Homo sapiens: one gene and its partner. The protein of the gene in region 1 purifies or fractionates together with the protein of each later gene. This does not show direct contact. Each region holds a gene or a part of one and is shown in the gene's direction. Other genes may lie near its edges.

Region 1 (5,408 bases):
TGCCTGAGCCTGTTCCTGAGATCAGACACTGTACACCCCTCTCTGGGTCAGTGCCTGGTCTAGGGAGAAAAGGCTTTGAGGGAGGGATCTTTACACAGAAGCCATGTTTCCTCAGTGGAGAAAACTGCTGCTATCTGGGAGGTTTCTTTTTCTTATCTTTTTTTTTTTTTTTTTTTGAGATGGAGTCTTGCTCTGTTGCCCAGGCTGGAGTGCAGTGGCACGATCTCAGCTCACTGCAACCTCCATCTCCCAGGTTCAAGCAATTCTCCTGCCTCAGCCTCCCTAGTAGTTGGGATTACAGGCACCCGCCACCATGCCCAGCTAATTTTTGTATTTTCAGTAGAAACAGAGTTTCAGCATGTTGGCCAGGCTGATCTTGAACTCCTAACCTCAGGTGATCCACCTGCCTTGGCCTCCCAAAGTGCTGAGATTACCGGCATGAGCCACCGCACCTGGCCTATCTGGGAGATTTCTGTGTATTCCTCTCTCGAGAAAAGAGGACCTTCGGACGGTTTCTGCTTTGAGTGGTGGCATCCTTAGAAGACAGCAGGGTGCTGATCTTTGAGTCAGGTGCCCGAGGTCCAAGAGAAGACCCAGGCGTGCAGCTCCCTTAACTCCCTGTCACTTCACCACACACTCCCTTTCAGGAGCTCATTGCCTTCAGATGTGTGTATCTTCAGAAAGTTCCAAGGGCTTCACTCTAGTACTGGTAGTATTGGGCTCCCGAATAACTTTCTCGGCCAGATGCAGTGGCTCATGCCTGTAATACTAACACTTTGGGAGGCCGAGGCAGATGGATTGCTTGAGCCCAGGAGTTCAAAACCAGCCTGAAACCCTGTCTCTACAAAATATACAAAAGTTAGCCAGGCGTGGTGGTGTGCGCCAGCTACTTCGAAGGCTGAGGTGGGAGGATTGCTTGAGCCTGGGAGGCGGAGGTTGCAGTGAACTGTGATCATGCCACTGCACTCCAGCCTGGGTGACAGAGCAAGAGTCTGTCTCAAAAAAAAAAAAAAAAAAAAAACCAGGCTGGGCGCGGTGGCTCGCACCTGTAATCCAAGCACTTTGGGAGGCCGAGGTAGGTGGATCACAAGGTCAGGAGATTGAGACCATTCTGGCTAATACGGTGAAACCCCGTCTCTACTAAAAATACAAAAAATTAACCCTGCGTGGTGGCACACGCCTGTACTCCCAGCTACTCCGGAGGCTGAGGTAGGAGAATTGCTTGAACCTGGGAGGCAGAGGTTGCAGTGAGCCGAGATCGCTTCACTGTACTCCAGCCTGGGTGACAGAGTGAGACTCCGTCTCAAAAAAAACAAAACAAAACAAACTTTCTCAGACATCATTTCTTCTTCAGGGAAGCCCTTCCTCCCCCACTAGATAAGTCCCCTTGCACACCCTCCTCCATTCCCTCCATTGTAGGAGCTTTGGTCCCAATTATGTGAAATAGTCCCTTGCTGGAGATACCCTGCAAGTCTCATCCCCAGCACTGCTCTTTGCACCTAATAAGTGTTCGTGACTAGTTGCCCCTTGCTGGCTTAGCTGACCCTTGTGAACTATTCCAGCCGTGGAGTCAGATCTGAATTGTGCCCATTTGGAAGAGGACCTTTCTGAGCCTCTCTGACCTGTTTCCGAAGAAGGGATTATAAGAACTGTTTCCCTCTGGGTGGTTGGGAGGAATTGGCACAATCAGATGTGTAAAGCACTTAGCGTGGTTCCCAGCTCATGATGGGCAGACAAGTGTATGGCACCACTCACTCACACCCCCTCCACCCTGCCCACTCCAAGGCTGGAGGTCCTGGGCTGCTTGGGCTGTATTTCCGTATCGTCTTCTCAGGCATAAACCCAGGAAAATATCTGAATTCAGCTGGGGGTGAGGGAAGGAGAAATAGTGTCTGTTCCTTCCCAGCTGGCAGAGTGGGTAACCAGGTGTCTGTAGCTGAGACCAGGGACTTACAGGCTCTATAAAGGATAATATAGGGTAACCGAGAATAAAGTCTGGGGCTTCTCCAAGAAGCCGATATGGGTAGTAGACAGAACCCTTGGAAGCCAGACTGAGCTGGGTTCAACTCTCCAAGGCTGGGGCTGCTTCCCAAAGCTGTTATTATGAAGTGGAATGGACCTTAGAAGCCAGGCAGCCGTGGGTTCAGATCTCAGATTGGCTACTTGTCAGCTGGTGCCTAACCTTTGAACCCTTAGTCTTGTGTGCAAAATAGAGACTCTGCCGCCGCCCCAAAACAGATGAAAATTAGATGGAACCTGTGTGCAAGTACCTGAGCTAATTTAAAAGTTAACATATAGTAAGTGCTTAAATTAGGATCCATGCCAGGCATGGTGGCTCATGCCTGTAATCCCAGCACTTTGGGAGGCTGAAGTGGGAAGATCGCTTGAGCCCAGGAGTTTGAGACCAGCCTTGGCAACACAGTGAGACCTCATCTCTATTTAAAAAAAAAAAAAAAAAAGGCCAGGCACGGTGGCTCAAACGCCCATAATCCCAGCATATTGGGAGGCCAAGGTGAGCAGGTTATGTCTCTACTAAAAATACAAAAATTAGCCGGGCTTGGTGGCGCATGCCTATACTCCCAGCTACTTAGGAGGCTGAGGCAGGAGAATTGCCTGAACTCAGGAGGCGGAGGTTGCAGTGAGCCAAGATCACGCAACTGCACTCCAGCCTGGGTGACAGAGCGAGACTCCATCTCAAAGAAAAAAAGAAAAAAAAAGAAAAAATTAGGAGCCAGGCACAGGTCTGGGGCCATTATCCTCTTTTTACAGTTTGTGTGAAGACCTTCATGTTGAATGACCACCTAAAGGGTTAACTTTAGTGTTCCTGTTGCCCCATGTGATCTGTTTAGTTGAAATTATAAAAATACCCAACACTGGTTCTCCCTCTGTCCCACACTAGCTGTTATTTTGGACAGGTGACCTGACCCCTCTGTGTTGCACTTTTCTTGTTCTGTTACGTGGAACTGGAATCATGCCTTTATCAGGTCTACTGAACCTGTACCATCCAATATGGTAACCCCTCACTACATGTGGCTATTTAAATTTAGATAAATTAAAATTAAATAAAATGAAAATTTTTTGTTGCATTTGTCACATTTCAAATGCTCAGCCACAGTGACTAGAGACTCACATTTCTTGGACAGTACAGATATAAAACATTCCATCATCGCAGAAAATTCTGTTGGACTGTGCTATGCTAGGCACTGGGGTAACAACAAAGAACTAGATTCAGTGTGTGCCCCCAAGTGTGACAGGTGCTGTGACTGGAGCTTCTCATTCTTGGTGAGTCCCAGATGCAGCAGCCTGGAGACTATTGAGACCTTGAGAAGTTTAGAGAATGGGGAATCATTTCTGCACTTGCAGAAACCTGGGTTGTATCCCAGCCCTGCTACTGCCTTCCTGCCTGAGTAGCCAGAAGTGAGTTGACCTCTCTGAGCCTTGTTCCTCATCTGTAAAATGGAAGCCCTAGTAGTAGCTTCTGCCCTAAAGTCCAGGTAGTGCATGTGAAATTAATGCTTAGCCAGTGGTAACCAGCCTTGTTATGCACCATTGTTATTACTGACTCCCCAGTCCAGGGAATTGGGCAGGGAGGGCTGACTTGGAGGGGTCATTTCTTGGCAGTGGTATGCTGCCCTGCCTGCTTCCTCTGTCAGGATCGGGGAAGCATTCAGGGTATTGGAGCCATGGATTCAAATCTACTTGGTTTTGCCTTCAGGGCTTTATACTCGCGTTCCCTCTGGCTGGAATGCTGGTCCCCCTAGTTTTTGGGGTGTGTGTTTGTTTGTTTTGAGACGGAGTTTCACTCTTGTTGCCCAGGCTGGAGTGCAATGGTGCGATCTCAGCTCACCACAACCTCCACCTCCTGGGTTCAAGCAATTCTCCTGCCTCAGCCCCCCGAGTAGCTGGGACTACAGGCATGCACCACCATGCCTGGCTAATTTTTTGTATTTTTAGTAGAGACGGGGTTTCTCCATGTTGGTCAGGCTGGTCTCGAACTCCCAACCTCTGGTGATCCGCCTGCCTCGGCCTCTCAAAGTGCTGGGATTTCAGGCGTGAGCCACTGCGCCCGGCCTGTTTGTTTTTTAAGAGAGGGTGTCCTGCTGTGTTGTCCAGACTGTTCTCAAATTCCTAGCCTCAGGTGATCCTCCACCACCAAGCCTTCCAAAGTACCGGGGTTACAGGTGTGAACCACCCCACTTAGGCCCCCTAGATCTTTACAGGCCTTGCTGTCTTCTCATCATTTAGATAACAGCTCAAAGACCACCTCCTCAATGGCTTCTCCTGTCTACTTACACTAAAATATTGCACACTCTCCCTCCCCATCATACAGTTACTGTTTATTTCACTCACTTTATAGAATCTGTGCTTTGAAATCCTGTTTATCAGATTCTGAATTATATGAAGGCCAAGGGCTTTGTCTTTTCACTGCTGTATTCTTGCTGCTTGCAATATAGCCATCAAAAATATTTGTTGAGTGAACAAATTAATTCTGTTTCCACCTAGAAAGCACTTAGCATAGTGCCTTATACTTGAGAAAGTGATCAATAAATGGTGTAAACAATGGTCCTCACCCTGGCTGTTATGCTGGGGCCCCACCCCAGATAACTAAATTAGAATTGCGGGAGGTGGGACCTTGGCATTGTTATTTTTGTAAAGCTTCTCAAAGGATTCTAATGTACCGCTTGGGTTGAGAAGCCCTTGTTTGATACAGCAAGGAGGTTAATGATACCTGACTTTTTATTAAGTGCTTATTGTTATGGAGGTATTGAGGTAAGCTACACAGTGTTATCTCATGAAATCCTCATCACTGGCCAGTGGAAGTAGTTACTGCTATCCCCATTATTTGGTAAAGAAACTGAGGCTCATAAAGCTAAGGGATAGCAGGTGGTGGAGCTGTCATTTGAGCTCATGCAATTTGTGTCAAGAGCCCCATCTTTTTTTTTTTTTTTTTTTTTGAGACAGGGTCTTGCCCTGTTGCTCAGGCTGGAATGCCGTGGTGCGATCATAGCTTGCTGTAACCTCAAACTCCTGGGCTCAGGCAGTCCTCCTGCCTCAGCCTCCTGAGTAGCTGGGACTACAGGTTGTGTGCTACCATGCCCAGCTAATTTACTGTTTGTGGAGACAGGGGTCTCACTGTGTTGCCCAGGCTGGTCTCGAATTCCTGGCCTCAAGCGATCCTCTTGCCTCAGTGTCCCAACGTGCTGGGATGAGCTGCTGCGCCAGCCAAGGGCCCCTATCTTTTAACTGCATTGTATATTGTTGTTGTTGTTGTTATTGCTGAAAGTGTTGATGGATCCAGACCGATGACTTAGAGCTCCTTCTTTTGACAATTCCTGGGTCAGATTTTGGAGTGAGTTGGGATTCCCAAGGCTATTCCTATCCTTCCCTAGCACCCCTGATGGGCCGTC
Region 2 (3,500 bases), about 15 Mb from region 1:
ATATTTTCAAGACAACAGATTTTAAGAGTAGGTCAAGATATTATCAAAAAGACAGATTCTGGCTCTATGTGAGGACATTCCCAACTCTACCAACTAAACAGGTATGGGCAAAAAAAACAAAGAAACAACACTGAAGTGAATGGCTGTGCAGGACTTCTGACTCAAAGAAGAGAGGTAAACAGCAACACTTTGTTATTACTAATCTGTGCATTTATACACGTTACTTTTTACAAGGTGCTTTCACACATCATTGGGCTAGCTGGTATTTTTACACAGGAGGAAGCTCACCCAGAGTCTTAGCTGTCAAATCACAACACTTTCTTTCTGTAACACTGTTCTTTCTAAAACAAAGCTAATGGAACATAAAGCAAATCTGTTAGAACCCCCATTTGCACTCCCCCAGGGTTCCAGGAACAATAAAGAAGAAGATACTAGTGAAAATGTGGTAAAAACGATGTTTGTGGAAGCAAAGGAAAAACTCCAAAAATAGAATAGCTTACCTTGTCCATAAATGATTGAAAGATGAAGTGAATAAAGGACAGGAACTCTTCGTCAACAAAAACCATGTTGATAGAAGAGTGAAAAATTAGAAATTATTGGTAACAAATTAAGAATAGCTGGAAACAGAATAAATACAGCTTGTGAGATTAGTTTTCCTTGTTCATACATGTATTCAACAGTTATTATTAGAACACTTAGTATGTCTTGGCACTGTGCTAGGCTCTAGGGTTACAGCAAGAAACAATGTATAGGCCAGGTGTGGTGGCTAACACCTGTAATCCCAGCACTTTGGGAGGCTGAGGCCAGTGGATCACCTGAGGTAGAAGTTCGAGACCAGGCTAACATGGCAAAACCCTGTCTCTACTGAAAATACAAAAATTAACTGGGTGTGGTGGCACGTGCTTATAGTCCCAGCTACTGAGGAGCCTGAGGCAAGAGAATCACTTGAACCAAGAGGCGGAGGTTGCAGTGAGCCAAGATGGCACTGCTGCACTCCAGCCTGGGTGACAGAGCGAGACTCCATTTCAAAAAAAAAAAAAGAAAAGAAACAATATGTAGACATGGCCTCCACCTCGCTGGATCTTCAGACTTATACAGGAAACAAACATTAAAGTATACAAATTCTTTTTTTTTTGAGATGGAGAGATGGATGGAGTCTTGCTCTGTTGCCCAGGCTGGAGTGCAGTGGTGCAATCTTGGCTCACTGCAGCCTCCACCTCCTGGGTTCAAGCGATTCTCCTGCCTCGGTCCCCTAAGTAGCTGGGACTACAGATGTGCTCCACTATGCCCGGCTAATTTTTGTATGTTTTGGTAGAGGTGGGGTTTCGCCACATTGGCCAGGCTGGTCTCGAGCTCCTGGCCTCAGGTCATCCACCCACCCCGGCCTCCCAAAGTGCTGGGATTACAGGTGTGAGCCACTACGCCCGGCCCCTACAAATTCTTAATTATAAACTCTGGCAGGTGTCATGAAGAAAAAATACAGAGTGCTGTGTGAATGCCCAACATAGGACCCTAACTTAGTGCAGACAGTCATGGAAAGGTTCATTTATTAAACCTAGATTTGCCGTGATTTTAGTCCTAGAAGATGAGGTGACCACGTGCCCAACTCTGTCCTTATAGTGCTGACCCACAACCATGTGCTCTTCCCCTTTTAACCCTGGCCTTACGTGGGCCAAAACGCTTTTCCTTGGTTTTTCCTTGCATAGCTGAAACAGGCTGGCATTTGAAAACAAAAAGTATTTAGTACCAAAGAACAAAAGGAAAGTAGTGTTGACACTAGTGTTAAGGTGATCTCATCTTGAGAAAAGTTGTACTAATTATGATTAGTTTTAAATGTCCAGTTTGCCGTGCTTAGAACATATAGCGAGAGGGGAAGAGGTGGTGGTGGGGAGAAAAAACCATAGCGAATTCACTTATTTAGAGAAATGTTATTGAACATCCTATGTGCCAGGCACTGCACTGGGCTCTGGAGACAGAGTGATAAACAAATGACTGCTGAATTAGGATAGCCTTCCTATTCTGATAATGCTCTGAGCCCCAAACCATCCCTTAACAAAAAAATTCTTTTTTAAAACTCCAGTAAGTCTCTTGTACATGCTTTTTTAGATAAGAACTTTGGCAGTATCCAGCATAGTCAACACATAATATCCCACCCACACTAGCTAAGTCAAACCTGAAGGAGAGGTTGCCTGGTTTAGTATCCCACCCTAAAACCAAGGATCAGAGAAAGAAAGGGTGAGTAATTGCTGTGATTTCCTTCTTTGCCAATAAATAGACCCCTTTTCTGTTTTTAGGAGCATGGCGATAAGAGTGTACAATTTGATGGGACTTTTCGATGGGGTGTGGTAGTCAGGAATAACTATCTACTTTTTGTAGCTAACTTAGAAATCATTTTGCAGTAGGTTGGGTGCGGTGGCTCACGCCTGTAATCCCAGCACTTTGGGAGGTGGAGGCGGGCAGATCACAAGGTCAGGAGTTCGAGACCAGCCTGGCCAATATGGTGAACCACCATCTCTATTAAAAATACAAAAAATAGCCAGGCATGGTGGCATGCCCCTGTAGTCCCAGCTACTCAGGAGGCTGAGGTGGGAGAATCGCTTGAACTGAGAAGGCGGAAGTTGCAGTGAGCCGAGATTGCGCCACTACACTCCAGCCTAGGCGACAGAGCGAGACTCCGTCTCAAAAAAAAAAAAGAAAAAAATCATTTTGCAGCGTATTGGTTTCCAATGCTACTTTAATCATCCTTGATACCTTCCTTTTTGTTACTTTCCTCCTATGTCCTGACTTATAATTAATCACCAGTTCTTTTCTGTCCTATCCTAAAGATCCCTTGAAATACAACTAAGTTCACTGTTTAGTTCAGCTGACTTTTTGTTTTCCATAATAAGACTTTCACCGTGAAAGATAGTGGTGGTTTTGCATCCTGGCATTATCTCATCAAGACCCAGTCTCACACAGTTCACAGAATGGCTACTTTGAGTAGCTCTAGTCTAAGCCACTGTCATCTCCCCTAGTTGTTAGTCTGCGGTGGGAGGGTGCTTTCTAAATCACACAGTAGCCAGAGGGAATTTTTTTTTTTTTTTTTTTTTTGAGACGGAGTCTCGCTAGGCTGGAGTGCAGTGGCGTGATCTCGACTCACTGCAAGCTCCGCCTCCCGGGTTCACGCCATTCTCCTGCGTCAGCCTCCTGAGTAGCTGGGACTACAGGCACCCGCCACCACACCCAGCTAATTTTTTGTATTTTTAGTAGAGACGGGGTTTCGCTGTGTTAGCCAGGGTGGTCTCGATCTCCTGACCTCGTGAACCGCCTGCCTTGGCCTCCCAAAGTGCTGGGATTACAGACGTGAGCCATGGTGCCCGGCCACCAGAGGGAATTTTTTTTAATGCAGATATAATGTTACTGTCTTGTGGAATTCCTTTAGTAGCTTAAACTCACTCAAAGGATGAATCCAAAATCCTAGCCAGGACCTGTCTCAACACAGTGTTGGAAAGCAGTGTAAC

What was found.
Region 2: the proteins of SESN2 (region 1) and SZT2 purify together in Homo sapiens (affinity purification with western blotting; one study listed by BioGRID and IntAct). This does not show direct contact.

What each region holds. Positions count from the first base shown.
Region 1 is NC_000001.11:28,261,623-28,267,030, forward strand, and holds part of SESN2 (sestrin-2), read left to right. Parts: intron 1-5,408. UniProt on the Homo sapiens protein: Functions as an intracellular leucine sensor that negatively regulates the mTORC1 signaling pathway through the GATOR complex. In absence of leucine, binds the GATOR subcomplex GATOR2 and prevents mTORC1 signaling.
Region 2 is NC_000001.11:43,396,399-43,399,898, forward strand, and holds part of SZT2 (KICSTOR complex protein SZT2), read left to right. Parts: intron 1-3,500.